3 linked regions of the Homo sapiens genome follow. The protein of the gene in region 2 interacts with the protein of the main gene of each other region in a biochemical or structural test. Each region holds a gene or a part of one and is shown on either strand. Other genes may lie near its edges.

Region 1 (7,294 bases), on a different chromosome or scaffold from region 2:
GTCAGGCAGGGCCTCCCACAGGAGGTGGCATTTTAGCAGAAATATGATAGAGTGAGGGAATGAAGGAAGAGTAGGGGAGGTAGAGGCAACACCAGATAGAAAGGTCCTGTGACAGGAAAGCCTTGATGTCTTAGGGCAGTGGTCCTAAACTTGAGCATCAGAGTCCCTTGGAAGGCTTGGTCAACACCCGTTGATGAGCCCCCACCGTTGGATTTCTGGTCCATTAAGTCTGGGGTGAGGCCTGAGAATGTTCATTCCTAACAAGTTTCCTGGTGATGCCGATGCTGCTGGCTTGGGGACAACACATCGAAAATCACTTCCTTAGAGGAGTAGCTGTGCAGTCAGGGTGGCTGGAAAGCTCAAGTAGGAAGGGGAAGAGTAGTCAGGGGCAGATTGACTCACACTCTGATGTGCATAGAAACCACTTGGGTCTGTCAAAATGAAGATGCTAATTCTGTAGGTCTGGGGTGGATCCTCAAATGCTGCATTTCTAAGAGAAAGCTCTTGAGTGACACAGATCACTTTGGCCTGTGGACCACACTTTGGGAATCAAGGCTCTAGGGCCTTTACTTTATGTTGAAGGAGAAGTCATTAGATGGTTGGAGCAGAGAAATGACATGATCTGAAGGATATTAAAAGGAGAGCTCTATGTTGTGCAGAATAGTCTTTAGGGAGCAAAGGCAGAAAGGGAAGCACAGTTATGAGGCCTGTCAAAGGACCAGCCCAGACATGAGGTGGCTGACCAAGGTAGGGGCAGTAAAAGTGCTGAAAAGTCTCAACTGTAGTATGATTTGAAAGTAGATCTAGGCCAGGCGTGGTGGCTCATGCCTGTAATCTCAGCACTTTGGGAGGCTAAGGTGGGCGGATCACAAGGTCTTGAGTTCAAGACCAGCCTAGCCAACATAGAGAAACCCCATCTCTACTAAAAATAGAAAAACTAGCCTGGCATGGTGGTGGGCACCTATAATCCCAGCTACTCGGGAGGCTGAGGCAGGAGACTCGCTTGAACCCAGGAGGCGGAGGTTGCAGTGAGCCGAGATGGCACCACTGCACTCGAGCCTGGGTGACATAGCAACACTCCATCTCAGGAGAAAAGAAAAGAAAAGAGAAAAAAGAAAAGTAGATCGAGTAGATCGAATAACATTTGCTGACAGATTGTGTGTCAGGTGTGAGAGAAAAGCAAGAGTTAGGGGCAACTCTAACATTCTGAGCCGAAAATCTAGAAGGAGTGAGTCACATTTACTGAAATGAAAAGGACTGAGAGGAGCAGGTCTTGGGATGGAGGATAAGAAACGTTTACTCAGCCTTGTGAGGCAAAAAGAAGATGGTAAAAAGGTGGCAATTTTCTCTATATGATTTTCCCAATTTATGGTGTTAGAATCTGGCCATATGGCTAACCCAATCAATCCTGGTGGTTTGGTTGAAATGGCCTAAAAAGAAGATTTACATGGTAATGAGATTTCTCCACTGGGGTCAAGGATCAGAGGTGGTGGTGGGCCTAAAGAGTACAAAATGGCAAAGAGGTAAATAATTAATTTTTATTAGATAAATAATGATGAGATTAGAAAAACTCTAATTCTAATCCCATTTCTGTTGTAAAATACAGCAGATTCTCTGAACTGTTTACACAATGGCTAACTCTAAAGAGAGATATTTTAGTGCCTGGCTCTGAAGTCTTGGGACCCATTTATGCATTCACCCATTTACCTTCCTAAACTATTTCTGCTCTGCCTATGCAGCCATTCTCCAGCTATTCCAATTAAATATCAACTAACTGGCTTCTCTGTGAGTGAGACAAAGCCAGAAAAATTGACCCTTAGTTATTGGTATGTTAGTTTTGTAGCCTTCAGATAGCACTGAGCTATTAAGGTATGGGCTACAAGATCTGGAAGTAAGCCCCATCACTGCTACCTATGATCTTGAGCAAGTCACTCTACCCATGAGAAGCCACCTGTCGCTTCCCAAAAAAATGAAAACAGCACTTACTCCACGACAAGACTGGACAAATAAATATGCAATTGCATATAAAAGCTTTTGTAAACTGAAGGTACTTATTATCATGAATAGCTCTGCTTCCACAAATCCTGACCTAAGACACTGGGAATGCAGAGGCTTCTCTCTCATTTCAGAAGCAGGACAACAGAGAGAAAACAGAGATGATGACTCAGCTTCTCTCTCCTCTCAGTAATGGATGAGACTGATGAATTTCTTCAAGAAATATATTTGTAAATGAGATGTCTAAGTGGAGATTGCTTTACACTCACCCCTAAGTCTCAACCGAGGAGTTGTTAGTGAATATGATGGGCCAGTGGAGGGGTTGGGTTTTGTTTCCCCACTAAATATAACCAGAGGCTTATTCTTATATTTTTCTTTAACAATCGGAATAATTATCTATTTGCTTTCCTTTTCCTCCAAATACAAATTGGAAAAATAAAATTTTTATAAAGAGAAACTTGTTACATATTTCTAGATCCATTGAGGACTTCCTAGCTCTCCTAGAAAGTCTGGTCTAACTATCTTCTCTTTCCGCATTTTTATCTTTCAGAAAATGCAATTTCTCACAAAGCACCAAAAAATATTTCTCCCCCAGAGAATCACAATACAGTATTAGGAAGGAAAGTGTTCAGTAATCCCACCACTGGGTTTCAAGTAATTTCAAGACTTTAATAACACAAAAATTGAACTCACCTAAATTGATTTCTGAAATATCCTTCTGTTCACCAAAATCTGCATCATGTACTGTTAAAAGTGAGAAAAAAAATTATTATTAGTCTTGCCGAAGGAAAAAAGTTCAAAAACACTCTCTGTGCATTTGAACTAATTCTTACCATTTTCTTCAGGAAGATACTTAATCTGAAAAAAATAAATATACAGAAAATGGATAATGTATACTAGAATTAATATTTCTAAATATCCAAAAAGCAGGACTCGACTTACCGGTACAGCTGCTATGTGGGCAAAAAGCAAGGTAAAAAAGAGAATGCAAGTGGATCTAATCCAAGCCATTGCTGCAAGTGAGCTGATTTTAGCACACACCTTGTCATAAATACCGTTTAGACTTTACCCTGACGGTCGTATTAGAAACTTTGACCCTTCCATATGTACCGTAGTGCCAATAAAGGTTGTCAAAGATAACATCATTGACTCTTTCGAGGACAAACACTAAGTTTACCTTAAATGCTTAAGCTCCAAAGACTGGGGAAAAGTTTGAAAAATTAATACGGAAATGAGCATATAAGAACTAATAACATTCCTATAGGGCAGCCATAGCCATTCATATCATAAAACAGGATAGACGATCCCCTTAACAATAAAAATAAAAATAATTTATAAAATTATTATTATTTAATTCTAATAAAATATAAATTCAAATTTTATGGAAATGTTATAAAGCAATTATTGAAGGACATAAAAATACCTGACTCTCTCTCTATATGTACATATGTATGAAATATTAATAGATTGTTTTAATATTAATCTATAAATTCATTGTCATTCTAGTAAAAAATCTAACAGGGTTTTCAGTGGAACTTGCCAAGCTGACAAATGGTTCAATTCGCATGAAAGAGTAAACATTGAAGAATAGATAAGAAAATTCTGAAAAGGCTGAATAAAGAGAAAAGAATTGCCTCAAAAGAATATCAGGAGCTTTGGTAAAGTTACAGTAATTAGAGTGTAATAGTTCCAAAAATAAAGATAAAATGAATCTATAGACTGGAATAGGTAATATCCAAATAGATGCAAGCATATGCAGGGCTTTTATGTATAAGAGGAACCAAAAAGGCAAGAGGGAAACTTGGGTCTCTTTCATAATAATGTGGGAATAATTGCATTTCCATATGAGGAAATACATTAAATGTACACCTGATACCATTGACAAAAATAAATTCTAGATAGATTAAAAATTTAAATATGAAAATATAAACTTCAAAAAAGAAAATATAGGAACATATTTTTAACCTTTAGGTCAAGAAAGATTGCTTAAACATGAAAAAAACATAGAAATTACAGAGGAAAAGAATAATACATTTGACTGTATCAAAATTTAAACTTCTTTATGACAAAAACATAACATGATTAAAAGACAAGCCACAGGTGAGAGATGATATGTATACTGCATATAATTGAATAAGAATAAGTATTCAGGATATGTAAAGAATTTCTACAAATCAATAAAAAGAACAGGAGATTATCTAAGGAAAAAATGAACAAAAAATATGAGTAGCAAATTCACAAAAGACCCAGATGGCCAATAAATATGTAAAAAGATTTTTAGCCTCGTAAGTAATCAGAAAAATTATAGGTTCAAATAGCAGTAAAATACCACCTCAAGCTAAGATTGGCATAAATTAAGAAGACTGACAATATCAAGTGTCAACAAGAAGGTAAGAAAATAGGAAATCTAGTAGGACATCAATTTGATGCTATCTAATGAAGTTGAAATGTGCACAGTTCATAAGATAGAAACTTCACTTCTAGGTCTATATGCTAAAGGAACTCACACATATGTGCACAAAATTCCACATAGCATATTCATTGAAGTTTTTTTGTTATGGTAAAGAATGGGGAAAATGTGTTTATACTAAAAGAAAAGATAAATTATGGAATATATTCAGCCATGCACAGGTAAATGTTTAATAATCGGCTCTTTTAAAAAAAGTAAAAACAAACAAGCAAACAAACAAAACCAAGCCTTTATTTGTAGTGTTTGTTGATTGCCATGGTCAATTTCAAGCTACCAACACCATGTCACTGAATGCAGTGTTGGGAAGAGATGTACACAGTGGGCTCCATCTGCGCCAGCACAATACTAAATATATGCACACACCCACCTATTCTTGCCTGCACCAGATATAAGAATCTTTGGCATTAGAGCAATCTTCAAGGTCTAGAGCCTGCATCTCTCTACCTCAGACTTACTACTGGGCAGGTGGGCTAGTCCTGCTGTCAAAAAAGCATTTCCTGTCACAAAAGACTTTTAGAAGGTGAACAGTAGAGCTTCTTGAGCTGTAAAATAGGAGGCATGTCAACTGGGGGCCTGCTTCTGATGGGCAGAAGCGTTCTATGGCTGATTTTTGTTTTACCTAAGCCACTGATGGTGAGGTGATAAAAGGCCATCTTCCACCGTCTCTAACCATTACAAACCACTAATATTATTTTTTAAACGAAACAAAACAAAACAAAAAGCCAAATTTGCCCAACAGCCGCAATGACTTAAGTGAGCAACTACAATCTAGACCATTTAAAAATTGGGCAATAATCAAATTTTAAAACTGGCCAACATCGTAAGAATAATTGGCTTTAAGTATCAGTGTGGAAAACATATGAGACTTTTATTTCTTAAATGTGTTGTTTAATTTTTCTCAAATTCTGAAGCAATTATGGTAAAACTGAATATTTGGTAAAACTGAATATTTGTTAATCTTGGAAACCAGGAAGTAGGAGTTTGTTATTTTATTTTCTAAAGAAAAAGGCAGTGCTGTTGCTTTGGTACACCTCTCTACTAAATCTCAGGTATCAGGATTTCAAACAGGGAATAGTGAGGCTGTTTAATTCTCTCCACCTTCTCTTGCTTCCAGCCAGATGTGTTTTTATCTTTCCCTGCCTTCTTAAACTTATCTGAATGATATACTACAACAATGGCTTTGGAATCAGATAAGCAGGAACTCCACCTCTACCATTGACTAGCTACAGTAATTTTAGTACCTGCTTTTTATGTGTAGAATGGATAGTGGTGCCTACTTCATGGGGCCAATGTAAAGATTCAATGAGATAACATATGTAAACCACAGCTACTAGAAACATAGGAAGCACTCAATAAACTGCTCCTTCTACCTGCTAGTTAGCAACTGCCTCCTAGCAAAACATGGGCACTAAAAACACAGCTCAGCCCACTCCTTGCTCAGTAGAATCTCCAGTGATGAGAACATAGGTCTTCAGCAGACACAACTTGCCCCCAATTATTTTATTGTCACAATCTTAATGGCAGATGTTAATTAGTTACCAGCTATTTGCAATCCTAGTCACTTCTTCATTGTGTCAGGGTATCAAATGAGTAAGGCTGGGGCCTTAAGTCCTTCATTTGAAGGGTTTATGGCTTTTCAGTTTAAAGAAGATTATGCACTCTGTGGTCAAGGTCCATGCTTTATTTCCTGTATTTGCCCCAGTGTTTGGAAACATAGTAGGTAATTAGTTCTCATTTTAACTGAAAAAAGTAAATAGAAATTTCTCTGAAGGTATCGGATGGGGTGACTTGCTTTGATCTCAGGAAGGGCATTTCATAAACTGACCAGTTGAGAAAGTGGTCTGAAGCTTAGAGGAAGAAAGCCATTGACAGGTAGAAAATGGAAAAACCCGCCCCCAGCTATTTCCACACACTCTCCAGCTTCATAAAAGCTCAGGCAAGGAGTTGGGCTAAGAGACTTGCAAAGTCCTCTCACCCCAAACCCTTCTCAAGGATGTTCTCTGCCCTCTTTCTACTCTATTGCAAGATGCTGATTCCTTCTGCTTCACTCACAGAGTTCTGCCTTCAACCAGCTGTCAGCTAACCTGAAACACAACAGTCCTTGTTCCTCCCAGGGCAATCAACATATTAACAGGGGCCCAAAGGTGTATAGAGCAAGAGTCGGCAAACTGTCTGTAAAGGGCAAAGAGATATATGTCAAGCATTGTGGGCCATATGAGCCCTGTTGTAGCTATGTAACTCTCCTGTTGTATGTAGCATAAAGTAGCTGTAGACAATAATGTAAAGGTGTGAACATGGCTGTGTTCCAATAAAACTTTATTCACAAAAACAAAGCAAAGGGTCATAGTTTGCTGACCCCTGGGTTTTAGAGAATAACCCTCAAGGTGGTGGAAATTGAGACGGTGATAATAATTATAACAGAAGCAGTAGCAGCAACCAACATGTACATAGTACTTACTGTGGGCCAGGCAGTATTCCAAGTATCTAAGGGTAATTATCCATTCAATCCTCACAACAATCCTACGAAGAAGCAACTATTATTATCTCCATTTTATATATTAAGAAACTGAGATGAAGAAAAATTAAGGAACCTTCTCAAGGTCATGCAGATCCTGAACAATGCTCCTAAATTCCACCTGAGAGGCAGTTCTTTACACCTATGTCTGGCCTTTGACAGCCCAGGAGTGAGGCCTCCACCATTATGCTGTAGCATGCAGACCCCTGGTTTCACAGGGTTCCATCTCTAACAGTTTACTAAGAAGAATTAACCCTGAGGGAAACAGTTCCCAAGCTATAGATTCCTTCAAAATCCTCTGGATGGTTTGTTGA
Region 2 (5,205 bases):
AACATGTTTGATGAGAAAAAAACATAAAGGAAAGGGACTTGGGTTTCATGGCAAGAGATTCAGCTTAGATGGGAATGAGCTGGTCTCTGAGGCAGAGTTTCCTGTCTCATCTTTGTATAAACTCCTTCTTAGAAACCAGCAGAGGCTCTTAATGTACGTCCATCTTCTCCTTCCCACCACAGACACCCACTCCTATGTGCGTTTCTGAAAATTACAGGGTCATTTGTGGATGTGCTTTAATTTAGTATAGATATAATCTGATATCATTATCTTTCTTTCCCCCCGCCCCCCGCCACCAGCATTCCCCCTGCACTCAATTTGTGCTTATATTCCTTTTGCTGTATATATACCCCTGGCTCATTGCTTCTGGAAGCTGCATTACTTATTCTAGAGTGTGGGTCTCCTACAATTTATTTATATAGCCCCCTAAATCAGTGGTTCTCAACTGGGGGTGATTTTATGCTCCCCAGGTGTGATTTGGCAGTGTCTGGAGACATTTTTGGTTTTCACAACTGGAGGTGGGCACTGCTGGTACCTAGGTGTATAGATGCCAAGGAGGCTGCTAAATATCCTACCATGCCCAGGACAGCCCCCATTACACAGAATAGCCAGTCCCAGAGAAACTCAGCCTTAGATTAGTGTTTCTCCTTCCTGGCTGCACATTAAAATTATCAGGGGAGCTTTTAAAATACACTGATGCTGGGATCCACCCCTGACCAATTAAATCAGACCCTCTGGGATGGGGCCTGGGCTTTAGAGTGTGTTTTTAACACTCCCCAGGTGATTCTAATGTGCAGCCAGGTTTGAGAATCTTTACTCTAAGGACTCAATCTTTGAAAGTTACAGCATTGTAGAGGGGAAGGATGATCCAGAATTAATTAAAGAAGGAAGAAGAGTGAACAGTACTGAACTGGATGCAAGATTATGACTGTGCAAATCCTCCTATTTCAGATTTAGGTTCTTTACTGGTAAATTGGATAAAAAGTTGGCAGTTCTTTTACTCACTGGAGCATGATGAAGATAAATGAGTTACAGTTGCCCTAGACTTTTACGATTAGTAAAACCAATGGATGGACAGAATAAATAAGTATAAGCAGACACCTATAGTCTAATATCGCAACTCCAGAAAATCTTTGAGAAAATCTCACACATGATGGGAGTGGGACAGGGAGTTGTTTTGTTTTTGCTTCCCTTGAGTCTCAGCAAAAGAACAGTCATAGAAAATATTTCCAAAAAATTTAGATATAATTTTGCTTGGCAATTAGAATATACCCTCTGTCAGCTTTGTTCAGTTGTTGGACCTATTAACCAATCCATACCAGACTAATTTATTTCTAAACAAAGTGGCGAATGGTGTCCAATGCCTTTTCTGAGAAAGAGAAAAATGGCCTCTTCAAAAGACGCAATTTGGTATAGACTTGTCTGGCCGTTTTGTAGTGTTCTGGAGTGGGGAGCATATACTACCCTCACAGGTAAACGAAACCTTACCTGTATGTATTGTCTCACCCATATCCTGCTACAGGAGAAAAAAAAAAAAAAAAAAAAAAGAACATTTCCATGGATCAGTTAGATTCCTTTAGACTTACAGGGAGGCTAAAATCACAGCATTAGGAAAGACTTTAGCATTTGGCACCTTGAATGAATATGGAAAATATAAGACCCAGGGTCTGTTGGTAGCCAGAAGAATGGATGCATTTCAACAGCAGTAATTTGCATGCGTGTATCACTTTGTCACTTTGAAAGCATTGTGACTCACATTTCACACTGGATGTTCACAAAGACTCTGATTTAAGCAGGGGTTGTTTTACAAACGAGAAAATTGGGATTCAAAGACACAGGTGGGTCTTGGACGGCAATCTGCTGATTTTTTTTTTCTAGGACTGTCTTTGAAATATCATCTGGTCTCCTTGTTAAGATTTAAACTGCTGTGTATCATCAGAACAATAGCCAATTAACTAATTGTGGAAACATTTACAATCATGCTTCCATGTTTTCAAATTTCCTGTCACCTAGTTATAAAAGTATGTATCTCTATACATATTATTTGTGGTTGTTTAAGAAGGCAGGAATTTGACTAGGAATTTTGGTTCGGTTTAAATAACCTCCTAGATTATTTATTATTTGAGCAAAGTTTAAATATATATACAAATAATTTGAAATAATATTTATGATAATGTTTCGATAATATATGCTTCATACACCTAGCTTGCTTGTTACAGATGAACACCTGACAATAATGTTTAGTTTTCATATCCCAAATAGGAGACTATCTTCCTTTTTCCTAAAGGTTTTTATGCCTATTCCAAACTTGCTTTAAAAGACTTTTTTTTTTCCAGATATGGAAAACGATCCAGCCCAGAGACACTGATTTCAGACCTCTTGATGAGAGAAAGCACAGAAAATGTTCCCAGAACTCGGTATGACAAGGCTTGTGATGGGGACATTGTTGCAGAGCTCAAGGTGCCCAGGGGAGGGAAGTCAGAGACAGGTGCCTGGTGGGAGGCACCACCAGGCTTCTAGACTAGGGGAGATTTCGGCAGAAATGAGGATGAAGAAGCAGGCAGAGGAGACCTCTCTTTTCATGTACTCATTGTCAAATCTCTAAACTTCTGTGGAATAACATTTTTTTAGCTCAGGTTATTTGGTGCTCCTTTGACGATTTTAAAAATAATTGACTTTTAACTTAGAAATTATATAGAATTTCTAACATTGTTGGAGTCAGGGGAGCATAGAGTGAGTCCCTGACTCTAAATTGAAATGACCAACTGTCCATCTCTGGCTGGGAAGATCTGTAGATTTTATATATGTGGAGTGTCCAGATGTCCTAGGAAATGTCCCATGTGGTTTTTACTCCAACTTTCCCAGTTTTACATGAAGCTGTAGGTAAATTAGGTGCTCTGGATTACTTTTTGACATATTTTAATTCAACTTGTGTCATATAGTGATTTATTACATTCAACGAATGCACGTTGAATGACAGTATTCTTAGGAGTTTATCTGTAGTCTCAGGACTTTCTTGCAGTTTGGGTCTGTCTTGGAAAGAGGTGCCCACCAATGTCTAAGTGTTAAACATTGAGCTAAGGTTTTCTGGTGCCTCCTGGACAAGGAGTGCTGCTGAAGAGGAGCCTGGTCCTCTTCCATCTTCATAACCTCCTGACTCTTCAGTCCTTGCTTCCTGTCTCTAACCACAGTAAGATCATAGTTCACAGGGTCCACCCACGTCTGTGGCAGCTTGGCTGCCTTAAACCAAGTTCTACAATGTCAAGAACCAAGTTCCCCAGAAGAGGTCACTACAACACTTGCTCAGTGAGTGTGACTGACGTGGCTCTCCATCAAGTTCTCCCTAGAGACTCAGCAGGGTGACCCGCTGGGCCACCCACCTTCCCTTCTAACCTCCCTCAGTTCTCTTCTAAAATGGCCAGCCAGCATGAAGGGTGTTAGTATAGAGTTGTGAGATTTGTTTTCTCTAAAGGGAACAACGATTTGAACTGAGATAAAACTCCAGTGCTCCTGTCCCTGGAGGAACCAGCCCAGACTTAAATAGCAAATGCAAGGGAAACAGGCAGAAAATTTGTAAGGGTTATCTTTTTTTAATTAAATAATAATAATAATAATTATTATTATTATTCAGAGACAAGGTCTCCTTCTGTCACTCAGGCCAGAGCACAGTGGTGCAATCAAAGATCACTGCAGCCTCGAGCTCCCAGCCTCAAGAGATCCTCCCTCCTCAGCCTGCCCAAGTGCTAGGATTACAGTTGTGAGCCATAATGCCTGGCCAGGGTTGTCTTTAACACTAAGCAGTAAATGTCTTTCCATGTTTCACTGACATGCATATGATGTTTGCCACAGTAAAAAGTTTAGGGTAGACTATATCGACTTACTGTTAGAAAAATAACAACGCAGACCTACTTAGAACCTTGGTTTTTGTCTTTGTTTTGTGGCCCAAGGTCACACAGTTAGTGCATGAAGTAAAATTAATTGCAACCTGATTGACAGACTCCATCAGGTGCAGTTAGAAGGAGACAAAACTTGACGGTCTTGAAGTTGCCTATGAGTGCTATTTTATTATAAAGGTCTTATTATAGTCTAATAAGTAGCATCTTACTACATAATAAAGCTGGCAGGAAAAGGAAGCATATTTAGAGTTGAGGAACAATAACTTTCCTGTCACAGCTTCATGTGATTTCTGTAATTTTGATTTTCAAAAGATCGGGGTGTTCTTCGGCTCCTTTGATACATACAGAGCCTTTCAAATGCTCTCTCTGATGTTTGCCCAAGACGCCTGTCAACATCGTGGAATGCTGCTCAGCTGGGGCTGTGCATATTGTGCCTCCGCCTCACGATCTGATATTCCACATGGCTTCTTATTTAGAATGCCAACAGGAAACTTTTCAACAGTTCCCGGTCATCTTTCACTTCAGATCTAAATGTCTCACCCTTGCTCATACCTCAGGAAGTTGGGCAGCTTTCCTTACATGCTTTGCTTCTTATGTTTTACAGGCTTGAAGACCCTGCAATGTGGTGATGGGAAATGAGACTTGCTCTCTGGCCTTTTCCTATTTTCAGCCCATATTTCATCGTGTAAAACGAGAATCCACCCATCCTACCAATGCATGCAGCCACTGTGCTGAATTCTGCAATGTTTTCCTTTGTCATCATTGTATATATGTGTGTTTAAATAAAGTATCATGCATTCAAAAGTGTATCCTCCTCAATGAAAAATCTATTACAATAGTGAGGATTATTTTCGTTAAACTTATTATTAACAATTAGTCATTATAGTCTCCCTCAACTAGCAGATTCAGGGTTCGTTTCGCTAATATTAAAACAGCGGCTATGAAAGATATGAAGATATGATTATTCATGATAACCAAGATCAGCTGTGTGGTGTGTGTGTATGTGTGTAAAACATATAGATGCATTTGAAGATATTGATCAAAGGAATGCTAATTTGGGAAATTTTTCTGAGCTTTCCCCCCATTAACATTGGAACCCTTTTGCTAACCTTGTTAACCAGTGCTGTCAGCAGAAGAACTTCCTGACTAACTAGAGCTTTCTGTGGAATGTCCTTTATCCCTCTGTCTAATATGGCAGCCACTAGCCACATGTGGTTTTTGAGCCCCTGAATGTAGTAAGTGCAAATAAAGAGATGAGTTTTAAATTTTATTTAATTTTAATGAATTTTAACTTAAATGGCCATTAAGT
Region 3 (6,962 bases), on a different chromosome or scaffold from region 2:
GTCAGGGGCAAGACGACCAAGTAGAGATGTTTGTCACAGATGATGAGAGCTGTTGTGGTGGCATTCATACTTATTCTTTTTGCCAGCTATTTTTATTTTGTCTCTTCAAAAGAATATATGAAGGGAATAGTAATAATAATTATTAAAAACAGTAATAGTAACAGTGGCAAAGCTCCTTTCATTATATCATATAGTAAAAACATAATGTTATGGTTTTGTAATATAACATTACACTTTTTTTTGAATGTCTAAAGGGTATCTGAAAGTATAAGGCATGCAGAAAAAGATTTGGCTATTTACTAAATTTTAAGATCCTACTTGTCTAGAGCCTTATTGTGACAGAGTTTTTAAAAATGCCCCGAAATATGCAGCCCATGTAACAAAATGAGAACTTTACTGAAAGGCATTCACATTTCAAATCAAGATCAAGAGAAAATCCACAAATAGTATTGTGTGTTTTCTGCACAAAGGAGATCATTGAATTGTCTGTGCACTTGTATACTCACATTTTTAACTAAATTAATCATCACTTTTTTTCTGCTAGTTAATGCTCTCCAAAAGTCAGATGAATAAAATGATTGTACTGACTATTTGATTGTGCTGATTAAGTCAAAACTCTTTACCAACTATATTTCATTGGCTTTAAAATGTGGGCTTAAAAAGCATTTTAATATTTTAATATTCATTTGCTATTGATGGTATGCCATTGCTTTACTGAAAGCATTTTTTTCTTGGTGGTCCATAAAATAAAATTGTGCTTTACATTCTTGGGCGTCAAAGATCCAAAGAAATGCAGCAGGTAAGTCACAGAAAGAAGGAAAATCCTGACACAAAATCAATTCATAGAATATGAACTGATTCACTGACGTGCTTCATCATAGTTCTACCCCCATGGAATTACCCCCTTATCAATGTCATATACATTTCAGTTTTCTCGTGTAGTATTAATGCCTATTAAGTTTCTTCTGAGTGACAATTCATGGTAATTTACCTGTATCAAGGCCTGATAGCATTTCAGAAACTTTAACTCTTGTAGCAGAAATTCCTCAGAAGACTAGTAATTAGTGTGTTTCAATTCCAGTAGCAAGCATACTGTCACACTTTTATTTAAGCAGTTACTGAATCATGGAATTTAAAGGCTGAGCCAGGCCATAAGTTTGTTCCATTGTTTAGAATACAAAACTTAGATTTACAGAAATTTAATGAGTAGATCCTATCCCTCAGTTTATATCACAGAGCAAGACTGTTGTTCAAGAGAGCATGAGATTAGGTCATTAACATAATTCCCCTTGGTTTATAGGTCAGGCTGTTATGAAACTACAGAAAGAAATACACAGAAATAAAGAAAAAATTCTCCCTAGCAAAGATGAAGTTTTATCTAGTTTGAATCCCAGATAGGAAAGTAGGCAGCTGATTATTCACTGAAGAGTAGAAAAATATATGATCTTAAAATTGGAATGAGGAAACTCTTTAATAAGTATTTTCTAAGAAATTCAAACTACTTTGCATATTTTAAATCTTCTATAAGATTACATTATTGGAGAATTTTATGTTGTGTTTGGCCATTGGACCATGTCTAATTTCTCTATTTTTCACATTGGAAAGAATCCTAGTAAATGGTATTCCTAAAGAATTATATAATTTTGCTGTTGAGCATTTCTTTTTTTTTTTTTTTTTTTTTCCAAAACAGAGTCTTGCTCTGTTGCCCAGGCTGGAGTGCAGTCGTGCGATCTCGGCTCACTGCAACCTCTGCCTCTTGGGTTCAAGCAGTTCTCCTGCCTCAGCCTCCTGAGTAGCTGGGATTACAGATGCGCACCACCACACCTGGCTAATTTTTGTATTTTTAGTAGAGACGGGGTTTCACTATGTTGGCCAGCCTGGTCTCGAACTCCTGACCTCATGATCCACCTGCCTAGGCCTCCAAAAGTGCTGGGATTACAGGCGTGAGCCACCGCCCCCAGCCACTGTTGAGTATTTCAGAACTTCTCTTTGTATCATAAAGTTGTCATAGAAAAGAGTCCTTGAGACCAATGATCTTTCAAAGATTGGTATCTGACATTAATAACTCAAGAATGCAGTTTCACAAATTTTCCTTAGGGAGAACACTTCATAAAAATTGAGTTAATAAAATGATAAAATACAATGGCCATAATAGTTCAGAACTCTGGCAGACATGCCTTTATTAGTATTCTTGGGAAATAGAGAAAGCATAGTACCTGAGTCCAAATTATATTCTCAAGTCCAAAATATTTGCTGACATAATAATAGTTTCTACATAAAAATATATTCTTAGTAGAGAATTAAATTACTTCATTTGTAATTCTTATAGCAGGCTAAAGATAGCCAATTTGATGATCAAAACCATGGGGAAAACTTCCTTCTAAGAACAGAATGTGACTTAAGGCAATAGAGTAGACAGAGGATGCATAGAAACCTGAATGAATATTAGTTATTCTTCCCTGAAAGAGTTGAAATTCCTAAATTGTGCCTTGGTAAAAATTATTGTGCCTTGGTTAAAAAAAAAAGTATGTGTGTGTATATGTGTGTGTGTGTATAAATGAATCTGTTGTCATTTTACTCTGCTTAACCATTAGAGATTTTTATATGTATGCTTATATCTGTTGTTATACACTAATAGTACAATCATTACATAATCATGACATTTTAATTCTTAATTACAATGCCTTTCCAACTATATAAAAATATGTCTAGTGACACATATTTTGGAAAGCTTTCTTGGAAAAACATCCAGAGATTGTGTTCATCACTATCTATATAAATGAGCTTATACTGAACCTTAAATATGTTTATTCAGCCTAACAATCAGAAAAAGAAAACGTTTTTTAACAGTATAAAGTTCAGATGAGTCCACTTGTCTTGGAATTTTATTTTGATTTTAATTAGAAGAAAGACTGCCATTAGAATTGTTTTCTAATGAAATCTTTATAAATTCTCTGGGCAGTGCCCTGTATCTTTATTAGAAAGACTTCTTATTTTTAACAATTTTATTTGGAAGAAGTTCTACTCATTTGCATCAGTTCATCGTCTACATAATTTGTGTGTGTGTGTGTGTATGTGTGTGTTTACAACTTTGACTTTTGAAACTAGAATAGAATCAGGTAAAACATCTAAGATCAGTGTGCCAGTAATTGGCCTGAATCATCGGGCACCATGATGGGTTTGGCCGCCTTCAACGTACTCGGTGTACATTCTATTTTTTTCTTCATAATGTTCAGTACTGTAGTACTAATCACCGAGAAAATTGCATTGACGCTTTTCGACCACCAGGGAAATATTCAGCTCATGGTTCTCCCCTAAAAAAACTAAAAAGCAGCTAAGCGCTGGGAACAAATCTGACTTAATGCATTTTCTCAGTGGGCCAAAGAAAGGAGGGCCGATTGACTGCTTTGACTTTTTAAAGGTCTTCTCTTTGTTCACTTATAAAGTGAGGAAAACAAATTCTCGGCACTGGCGTGAGAGTTATTTGAGCGTCACAAAAGAAAGCAAAAGAAAATATTAGTGCCATTATTGTGGCGAATTTCATGTTTCCCAGCGAGCCCTTTGATTCCTGGTTTGGGCTGGCGCTCGAGCTCTCCAGCCGGGTATGACTTCGGCCACAAGATGGCACTGACCTGCAAACAAAGAAAAGCACAGTGGCACCGACTTTTTCAAGCCTCGGGAAACTGCCCTGCCTTCCCCGGAGTCGAGGACTGTGGGGATTAGGGCTTCCTTTCCCCTGCGCGGGAGGTCTGTGTCGAATAATGTGTGGCTTCTGTTGGATTGCTTTTCTTTCCAAAATTCCTAGGCAATGCTTCCCCGAGGTGTGCACCTTTGTGAGGTGTTTGTGGGGTTGGGGGAGCTTCAGGCGCTACTCGCGGGACGCCGTCACGTGATCCGGGATGAGGTGGAGTTCGGCTTTAAGGAGGCGTCTCTTCCTAGCTTCATCAATCTTTAGGATCTGAGCAGGAGAAATACCAGCGGATCTTCCCCACTCTGCTCCCTTCCATTCCCACCCTTCCTTCTTTAATAAGCAGGAGCGAAAAAGACAAATTCCAAAGAGGGTAAGTTGCGAGTTTATGCCTTTCCAGAGACTTCTGCGAAATCTCTCATTGACAAGGTGAAGGATGAGAGGGGAAGAAAAACGATGCGAGTGTCCGAAACTGGCTCTGGGGGACCAAGGTGGGGTCTCCAGTGCAGGCAGGTCGCAGGTTGCTCCAAATCACCGGACCGTTCGCGGGCTCCTGCCGAAGGGTATGGGGACGACGCGGGTGAAAGGAGAGGGTACCCTACGCGGAGTTCGGGCTTTCCCACCACCTGCTCCCGGGGAATTTCTGGATGGGGATCCAAGTTTTCCTTTACCCCGGTTCTCTTTAAAAGGCCGAGGCACTGGGAAGGCGCCCGAGTTCGCCTATCCCACACCCGCTCATTTTCCTTACGTGTCTTGAGCTGGCTGGAGGCGCTGGCTCTGGCCGCACCGGAGTTTTCGCGGAGTAACTGGCTGGGATGAGCCGGAGAAGGGTGGGCTTGGCGCGTCGCCCAGCGTCGCACGGGTCCCGCGGCAGGTGTCGGGCTGGGAGCTGGCGGAGGTGGGAGTAGCCCTCGGCGCGGACCCCAGCGCGCAAGCCCACCCCCACTTGCGGGTTCCGCGCTTCTCGGCTGCAATCGAGCCGCGCTCCGCAGTACCGGGCGCTTCGAGTGTGGCGCTGCGCCCCGATAGACACCCGAAGCTTTTAATCATCGGAGTTCTAATCAGGGAACTCTTTAGCTCTTTCTTTTAGAAAAGTAATGATGGAACGTGGCTGGGTTAGGAGATTGGGAATGGACAGGAGGTGGAGGTGTCTTGATAGGGTGTGCCATTGGTTCCCAGGTAGACTGGAGAGATAAGAATGTTTTAAGGTCTGATGTTGGGCCAAAGAGAGAGAATTGACTTCGGTTTGGGATCTGCTTGGTTTTGGTTGTTTATATCTTTTCTCTTTTGCCAGTCTCTTATCACTGGTAGAAAGGTTTTTTGATGAGAGAGAGAGAGAGAGTGAGAGTGTGTGTATGTGTGTGTAGTAGGGAGTCAGGAATGGAGTAAATTTCGGGCGATTCACCTAGTTACGCAATATGAAAAAGGTGGGTGGGTAAGCGTGCCAACAGGAATTTTGACTGAACATGTCCCATTTCCCATTTCGTTGTTTGATAACTTCTGGAGCACAGGAAAAACCTAGGGGAGAGGAGCAAAAGAGAGTGTGTTTCCATGTACACACACTCACACTCACACACACACAGAGCACGCATTGCTTCCCCCACTCCCCATCCTATGAGAAAGCATGACGGGCGGGATGGCACACACAGGCAGGGGACATGTGGAGCTTGTCTGTCAGGTCTGGAACAGAAAAGCAGTAGCTGTTTGTTCTCGACCCTGGGCCGGCTCTCTGGCGAAGCAAGCGAGGGAGCAGAAAGCTAACCCGACCAGGTTCCCCACCCAGGACTAGACCGAGTGCTCTTCCGTGACTACTACTTTATTAGTCTTTATTGTCTTAAGGCAGCAGTCTGTTGAACAAGCCCTCCCCAGCAAGGAAGGAGCAGAGAATTATGTAATTCATTTAGATAAGCTAGCAGTAACTTTGGGAGGCTGTATGTAACAAGGCTGACATTTCTTTTCCAACACAAGTGAGGTGAACAGCCAGCCAATCCTGAGTATTTGAAAAAATGTATCTGCAGCAGGTTATGATCAGGGAGCTGTATTTTCAAGTAGTAACAGCACTGCGAAGAGCAAGCAATGAAAGGCCAGCATTCTAATTGGAAAGAAAGAAGAGGAAATTTCCCTCTGCAAGGGGGCTAATTTGCCAACTGGTGATGTATGTAATGTCTGTTTTGTCTCTATATGCACATGGCAGCTACACTGAGATTTAACAGTCTTTAATTTTTGCAGTTTCTGCAGTTGCATAGCTTATTTTACAAATTATATTAGAATAGTAAATATCAAATTATTTTCTTTTGCAAAGATAAAGTGTGTAAATTCTCTCTTAGTATTGTTATTTTCTGACAGTTATTCTTTCTTGAAATTACACTAAGGTAAACTGAAAATACACATTTATCCAATGCAGAATTGGTTTACACAACTGGAATAACTATCAAATGTGCACTTAGTAAAATAGGCTTGAAAACACCTTAAAAAAATAAACTTTTCATTTTCTCTATAGCTAAATTAACTTCTACCTAGTAAGAAAAATGCTTCCTCATTGGGCATGCCTATTAAATACAATTTCAAAGGTATCAGGCTAGAGCTTCAGTACGTTTACCTGAACTCATCTGTAAGAAAGCTATGTTTGTAGCCTGTACTTTGCAATAATTTAATGTCTGTGTGAATTCTTATATGTATTCATTTTTGCCAAAATCAGTCAGTGGATAGAATATTTCTGTTTCTTTTTCTCCATGGTATACATCTTGGTCTCTGTCCCTATTATTTCTCGCCAAAATTATTGCACTAGCTTTCTAATGAATCTCCCCATTTCTTCTCTTTCCTTGAGTGTGTTGAAAACAGCAGCGAGAATAGTAATTTTAAATCAAAAGTCATAAAACTTCACACCTTTGCCAAAGACTCTCCAGAGGCTCCCCAGCTCTCTCAGGATTATAGGCACAGACCATAAAAAAAAAAGGCTCTACAGTCTGTACCCCCCTCTTTAGCCTTCCTAATTAATTTCCTAAGAGTCCCTCCCTTATTTATCCTACTTCTTATTGCTACTTAGCACACCAGTTACACATGGGCCTTAGGGATTTTTGTTCTTTCCATATGGGATGCAATCCCTGAGATACTTGCATAGCTTCCCTACTCACCACTCCTCTCAGGTCTTAACTTACATGCCTTCTTCTCAGACAGTCAGAGGCCATCTTTTACAGTCAAGTAATAAATTGCAGCTCCCCCAAATCCCAGTTTCTCTTTCTTTTTTTTTTTTTGAGACGGAGTCTTGCTCTGT

The links. The genes of interacting proteins can lie anywhere in the genome.
Region 1: of the proteins of NPY (region 2) and MEP1A, one has a biochemical effect on the other in vitro, tested with the Homo sapiens proteins (one study listed by BioGRID).
Region 3: the proteins of NPY (region 2) and NPY1R form a complex in vitro, tested with the Homo sapiens proteins (one study listed by BioGRID).

What each region holds. Positions count from the first base shown.
Region 1 is NC_000006.12:46,789,111-46,796,404, reverse strand, and holds the start of MEP1A (meprin A subunit alpha precursor), read right to left. Parts: upstream 3,017-7,294; 5' UTR 3,007-3,016; coding exon 2,938-3,006; coding exon of another isoform or gene 2,854-2,937; coding exon 2,829-2,853; intron 2,740-2,828; coding exon 2,689-2,739; intron 1-2,688.
Region 2 is NC_000007.14:24,287,163-24,292,367, forward strand, and holds the end of NPY (pro-neuropeptide Y preproprotein), read left to right. Parts: intron 1-2,336; coding exon 2,337-2,417; intron 2,418-4,500; coding exon 4,501-4,525; 3' UTR 4,526-4,700; downstream 4,701-5,205. UniProt on the Homo sapiens protein: NPY is implicated in the control of feeding and in secretion of gonadotrophin-release hormone.
Region 3 is NC_000004.12:163,329,581-163,336,542, reverse strand, and holds the start of NPY1R (neuropeptide Y receptor type 1), read left to right. Parts: upstream 1-3,946; 5' UTR 3,947-4,061; exon of another isoform or gene 4,062-5,843; intron 5,844-6,962. UniProt on the Homo sapiens protein: Receptor for neuropeptide Y and peptide YY. The rank order of affinity of this receptor for pancreatic polypeptides is NPY > [Pro-34] PYY, PYY and [Leu-31, Pro-34] NPY > NPY (2-36) > [Ile-31, Gln-34] PP and PYY (3-36) > PP > NPY free acid.